Linked DNA regions of Homo sapiens: region 2 is linked to region 1. Evidence: fine-mapped expression QTL. A gene starts in region 1. The other region holds a variant in brackets. All regions are shown on one strand. Distances are between the middles of the regions.

Region 1 (2,909 bases):
TGGTCCAGGAGCCCTTACTCTAGAGACCGTTGAGTTGTTTGTTGGGCTTTGGGTATCTGTGAAGAGGCCCTAAAAACTTTCATCGATTCGTTTACTCATTTAACAATTAATCTCTCTAGGGTGTGGTGGCTCAGCCTGTAATCCCAGCACTTTGGGAGGCCAAGGCGGGTGGATCATCTGAGGGTGGGAGTTCAAGACCAGCCTGACCAACATGGAGAAACCCCACCTCTACTAAAAATACAAAATTAGCTGGGCATGGTGGCACATGCCTGTAATCCCAGCTACTCGGGAGGCTGAGGCAGGAGAATTGCTTGAACCCGGGAGGCGGAGGTTGCCGTGACCCCAGATCTCGCCGTTGCACTCCAGCCTGGGCAACAAGAGTGAAACTCTGTCTCAAAAAAAAGGTAGAAAAATTAGCCAGGGATGGTGGCTCAGGCCTGTGATCCCACCTACTTGGGAGGCTGAGATGGGAGGATCGCTTGAGCCCGGGAGGTCGAGGCTGCAGCAAGCGGTGATCACGCCACTGCACTCCAGCCTGGGCAACTGAAAGCAACCTTGTCTCAAAAAAATGAAAAAAAAAAAACAAAAAACAAAAAAACCTCAGAAGCAAGACTTTCCTTGGCTCAGAGGTTTGCCTCCCAGGGACACAAAGGGAGATCAAGTGATTGCCTTTTGGGGAGAGTGGAGACGGGCTTCCTGCATTTCCAGTGCCTGGGTGGGCCACGTAGGGGTGTCCGTGTCTCTGAACGCATCCGTGCCCACCCTCACCCCTTGGGTTTTGGGAAGGACTAATGAAATCATGAAAACTGACTTCCTTGGGGCTTGACCTGGGGCTGCTCTAAGTGCGCTACAGGTAACGCCATTAACCCGTGCAAGACCCAATGAACAGACGCTATCATAAGCCCCACTTTTCAGGCGAGCAAACAGGGGCTCGTGGCTATCGATGCCATGGAGCCTTGGCCCAGAACCTGGGGTCTAGAAATCGTGGCCTCTCTCTCCTCTCACCGCCCTCTTTCTGGTCGGAGTGAACCCCCCAGAGAAGGGAGGGAGACGGCAGGGCCTGACGGAAGCCCCGGGAGCTGCACAGAGAGGCGGAGGGAGCTGCCCTAATAAGGAGAGGCCCGGACTTGGGCATATCTGCAGAAAAACCCTTCCCCACTAGGCAGGCGCGGGGGAGGGCGTGGAGGGGCGGGGTGGTGCCGCCCCCGGGGCGGGCCCAGTGCGTGGCAGCGGGACCTGCGGCCCCGTCGCGAAGTTTCCAGCCCTGCGAGCGCCGCCGGGTCGGCCGATCGTCCCCCATACCTCGGCCATGCGGCCCCTGCTGCTACTGGCCCTGCTGGGCTGGCTGCTGCTGGCCGAAGCGAAGGGCGACGCCAAGCCGGAGGGTGAGGGAGCGAAGGCCGGGGGCGGGAGCGCGGATCCGGGCGGGAGGGCTGGTGTCGGGCTGCCTCCCTGGGAACGACCTGAATGGGAGGCCTGGGCTGGAGAGGGAGTCTGGGTTCCGGCTCCTTGTCCACTTAATCGCTGGTGACTTGAACAAATCACTTCCCCTCTTGGGGCTGCGGTTCCTGCTTCGGGAAGGAAAGGGTGACAGCTGAGTCCCATTCAGCACAGAAAGGCTCAAATAATAATAGTTTTCATAATAATAACCGACAATGGCTATTCTGCCCAGTGCTCACTATGGGCCAGGCATCAGTTAGGCATGATTGCTACCCTGGTAAGTGTTTCCTTCTATTATCCCCGTTTTCCAGCTGGGCAAACTGAGGCTCCAGAGTTCATTCACTTGCCCAAGATCATACAACTTGTGGGCCTTGGAACCAGGATTTACCCCACCCACCCAGGTGTCTGGTTCCAGAGCCAGGAGGCCTCATGACCATGGGAATGAGGGGTCTTGAGGGGGACAGGGGAGGAATGGGGGTAGAAGGTGTGGCTCACTTTGTGGATAAGTTTGTGCTTTCATCCATGTCCCCTGTGGTCTGCTTAGCCCCTGCCAGGGTGGTCTTCCTCTCTGCAGTTTATTTTTTTTATTTTACTTAATGTATTATTTATTTAGTTATTTATTTATTTTTGAGACAGAGTCTTGCTCTGTCGCCCAGGCTGGAACGCAGTATGCGATCTCGGCTTACTGCAACCTCTGCCTCCCAGGTAAAAGCAATTCTTTTTTTTTTTTTTGAGATGGAGTCTCGCTCTGTCGCCCAGGCTGGAATGCAGTGGCACAATCTCAGCTCACTGCAACCTCCACCTCCCAGGTTCAAGTGTTTCTCCTGCCTCGGCCTCCCAAGTAGCTGGGATTACAGGCACGTGCCACCATGCCTAGCTAATTTTTGTATTTTTAGTTGAGATGGGGTTTCACCATGCTGGCCAGGCTGGTCTTGAACTTCTGACCTCTTGATCCGCTGGCCTCAGCCTCCCAAAATGTTTGGATTACAGGCGTGAGCCATCGCGCCCGGCCGGTTCAAGCGACTCCTGTACCTCAGCCTCCCAGGTAGGTGGGATCACAGACATGTGCCACCATGCCCAGCTAATTTTTGTATTTTTGGTGGAGATGGGGTTTCACCATGTTGGCCAGGCTGGTCTTGAACTCTTGACCTCAGGTGATCAGCCCACCTTGGTCTCCCAAAGTGTTGGGATTACAGGCGTGAGCCACCACACCTGGCCCTCTCTGCAGTTTATACTTGAGGAAACTGAGGCCCAGACAGGTGAAGTGACTGTCCAGGGTGGTCCAGACAGAGGTGGTTGGTCCGAGGTCAGCTGGGCTCCAGTCTAGCGCTCTTTCTACTTCCTCAAGGCAGATTGGATTGCAGTGTGTGCCCCACTGTCCTGAGTGGGTGCTTCCCTCCTCCCCAGCCCTCCCTGGCATGGGCCATCTCCAGGGCTGTCCCGAGAAGGGCATAGACTGCGGACAGTCC
Region 2 (2,909 bases), 58 kb after region 1:
TCCGTCTCAAAAAAAAAAAAAAAAAAAAAAAAAAAAAGAAGTGACATAGAGTGGTTAAGAGCCTGGACTCCAGAGCCAGGCTGCCTAATTCAAATCATAGCTCTGCCTTTTACTAACTCCGGAGCCATGTTAATAAAGAGGACCAAAGGAGAGAATGAATTTGAAAAGTGAAAGGAACAGTGCCTGGCATGTGGTAAGAACTTCGTAAATATTTGTTAAGAAAAAATAAACAAGGAAGGCAGTTAACATTTAAGTATTCATCTTCTACCAGCCGCCATTCACAGCATTTGTGTTTCAATTCGTTTGATCCTCACGATGTTCTCATGAAGTAGATAATGTAGTTATCTCCGTTTTGTGCTTAAGGAAACTAAGACCCAGAAAGGTTCTTTTGCTTGAGGCCACAGAGCTAGAAAGTGGTAAGAACCAGCTTCAGAACCAGGCAGTGTTGCTCCTGAGCCATCTTCTTAACCACCACACCGTGGGGCCACCATAGAGGATCTGGAGCTCAGCCTGTCGGCTGCAGGGTGCCAGAGGTGGACTCGTTTAGGGTAAGCAGGGCCGGCGCTCTGGCCCTTCCAGACTTGGGACTGTGGAACTCCTCTGACCACGTGGTGACCCATTTTCAATCCCCACCTCCAGACACGTACAGGAATGCAGAACTGGACCCCGTTACCACAGAAGAACAGGTTCTGGACGTCAAAGGTTACCTATCCAAAGTGAGAGGCATCAGTGAGGTGCTGGCTCGGAGGCACATGAAAGTGGCTTTTTTTGGCCGGTAAGTCCTTGAGGCACCCACCCTTTCTTTCTTCCTGGCTAGGAGGGAGGGAGGCACTTTGTGCAAGGTCACAGAACGTTCCAGGCAGGGACATGCTTCAGAATTCATTGCTTTCCTCTTAATTTATATTTTATTTATTTATTTGATTTTTGAGACAGGGTTCTCTGTCACCCAGGCTGGAAGCTCATTACAGCCTCGACCTCCCTGGGCTCAGGTGATCCTCCCACCTGAGCCTCCTGAGCAGCTGGGACTGCAGGTGCATGCCATCAAGCCTGACTTTTTTTTTTTTATTTTCTAATTAAGGTTAAAGGCATATAATATAAAATTTACCACCTTAACCATTTTAAGCATACAATTCACTAGTAGGTATATTTGCAACCAGTCTCAAGAGCTTTTTCATCTTGCAGAACTGAAGCTTGTATTATAGCCATTAAACAATAACTCCCTGTCCCACATGTCCCTTGCCCTGGCCACCACCATTCTACTTTCTGTCCCTATGAATTTGACTATTCTAGATGTCTCACGTAAGTGGAATCATACAGTATTTGTTTTTTTTTCTCCATTCATAAAACTTTTATTCCACTTACATGAATTTAATACACGTGTTCTTAACAATTGTGCTTGTATTGTTCATGAAAATTTCGTAAGACATTAAACAAAGCTAGCCATCATCTCAAGTTATTTCCCTGTTAACTATTTTTACAGTGCATGCATGTTAGGCAAGCATCAAAAAAAAATCACAAAAGCAAAGAATCTAAAAATATGCCGGGCATGGTGGCTCACACCTGTAATCCCAGCACTTTGGGAGGCCGAGGCAGGTGGATCACGAGGTCAGGAGATCGAGACCATCCTGTCTAACACAGTGAAACCCCATCTCTACTAAAAATACAAAAAATTAGCCGGGTGAGGTGGCGGGCGCCTGTAGTCCCAGCTACTTGGGAGGCTAGGGCAGGAGAATGGTGTGAACCCCAGGGGGCGGAGCCTGCAGTGAGCCGAGATCGGGCCACTGCACTCCAGCCTGGGCGACAGTGAGACTCCATCT[CA/C]AAAAAAAAAAAAAAAATCTAAAAATAAGTTAAATACGTGTTTTTTTTGTTTTGTTTTACTGCTAGCTTGATATACATGAAGTATTCATTTTTCCTGCATCTTTACTTTTACATTTGTTCTTAGGTTGCCTGAAACATTTTAAATACAAATAAAATGAGTGTAGCAAAAATAATGAAAGCTAACAGCAGATAACTTTACAAATAATGGAGTGTGAACCATTTCTGCCCTTATCCAGATTGAAATGGGTCACAACTTTGTTTAAAGGAACACTTCCACAGCTGTAGTCAAAGGTGTGCACATTGAGATTGAGTATTCCACAGACACACATGGTTTAACATGTGATAACCATGGGGTATCTGTTTCTACCACAGCCTTGTAAGTGCTCCAAACCTTAAAGTACCCACATTTACTATACCTGTGACTGGAACCAATGATCCTTTTTATTCCCCACCAGGACAAACCAATATGTAGGCAGTTTTCTTTGCTTTGACATGGAAGCAGTTTTAACACTGGCCCTTGTGAAGCCACAATGTACCTAAAGTACTAGGCCAAACATTTATAACTTGTATAATGACCAGGCACGGTGGCTCACGCCTGTAATCCCAGCACTTTGGGAGGCCAAGGCAGGCAGATCACAAGGTCAGGAGATTGAGACCATCCTGGCTAACACGGTGAAACCCCATCTCTACTAAAAATACAAAAAAAATTAGCTGGGTGTGGTGGCGGGCGCCTGTAGTCCCAGCTACTTGGGAGGCTGAGGCAGGAGAATGGCATGAACCCAGGAGGTGGAGGTTGCAGTGAGTCAAGATCGCGCCACTGCACTCCAGCCTAGGTGACGGAGTGAGACTCCGTCTCAAAAAAAAAAAATCTAATACAAGAAAAAAGGCATCTAGACAGATTGTATGCTAGGCACACAGTGGTAGCCTGGGGAATAGGCACTGTGCCTAGAGTCTTGACCCTGATGAACTGTAACCTCAGGTGTGGTCCTCTACTCCTCTGAACTATCATTTCTTCATCCTCACCTGGGAGGTATGACCCCCTACTTAGGTGAGCTAGTGGGCTTCCTGTCTCACTGGGTGCAGGTAAGGTC

Direction of the effects. Alleles are on the strand shown, and positions count from the first base shown. SD is a standard deviation of normalised expression in the study named.
In carriers of allele C in region 2, the expression in neutrophils of the gene that starts at base 1,247 in region 1 tends to be lower than with CA alone (large effect, 0.87 SD a copy in CEDAR).

The links. PIP is the estimated chance that this variant, and not a neighbour inherited with it, causes the effect.
Region 2: its variant is the best candidate, but not a certain one, in a credible set for the expression of PLOD1 in neutrophils (CEDAR, PIP 0.53).

The regions. Positions count from the first base shown.
Region 1 is chr1:11,933,471-11,936,379 of GRCh38, forward strand. It overlaps PLOD1 (procollagen-lysine,2-oxoglutarate 5-dioxygenase 1), which reads left to right and starts at 1,247. Exons shown (of 19, transcript NM_000302.4): 1 at 1,247-1,385. The coding sequence starts at 1,310. RefSeq lists enhancers at 30-955, 786-835, 956-1,879 and a silencer at 1,056-1,525.
Region 2 is chr1:11,991,916-11,994,824 of GRCh38, forward strand. It overlaps MFN2 (mitofusin 2), which reads left to right. Exons shown (of 19, transcript NM_014874.4): 4 at 640-775. Among named protein-coding and RNA genes, the nearest start is that of MFN2, 13 kb to the left of the region's middle. The variant CA/C (reference allele first, on the strand shown) is at 1,818.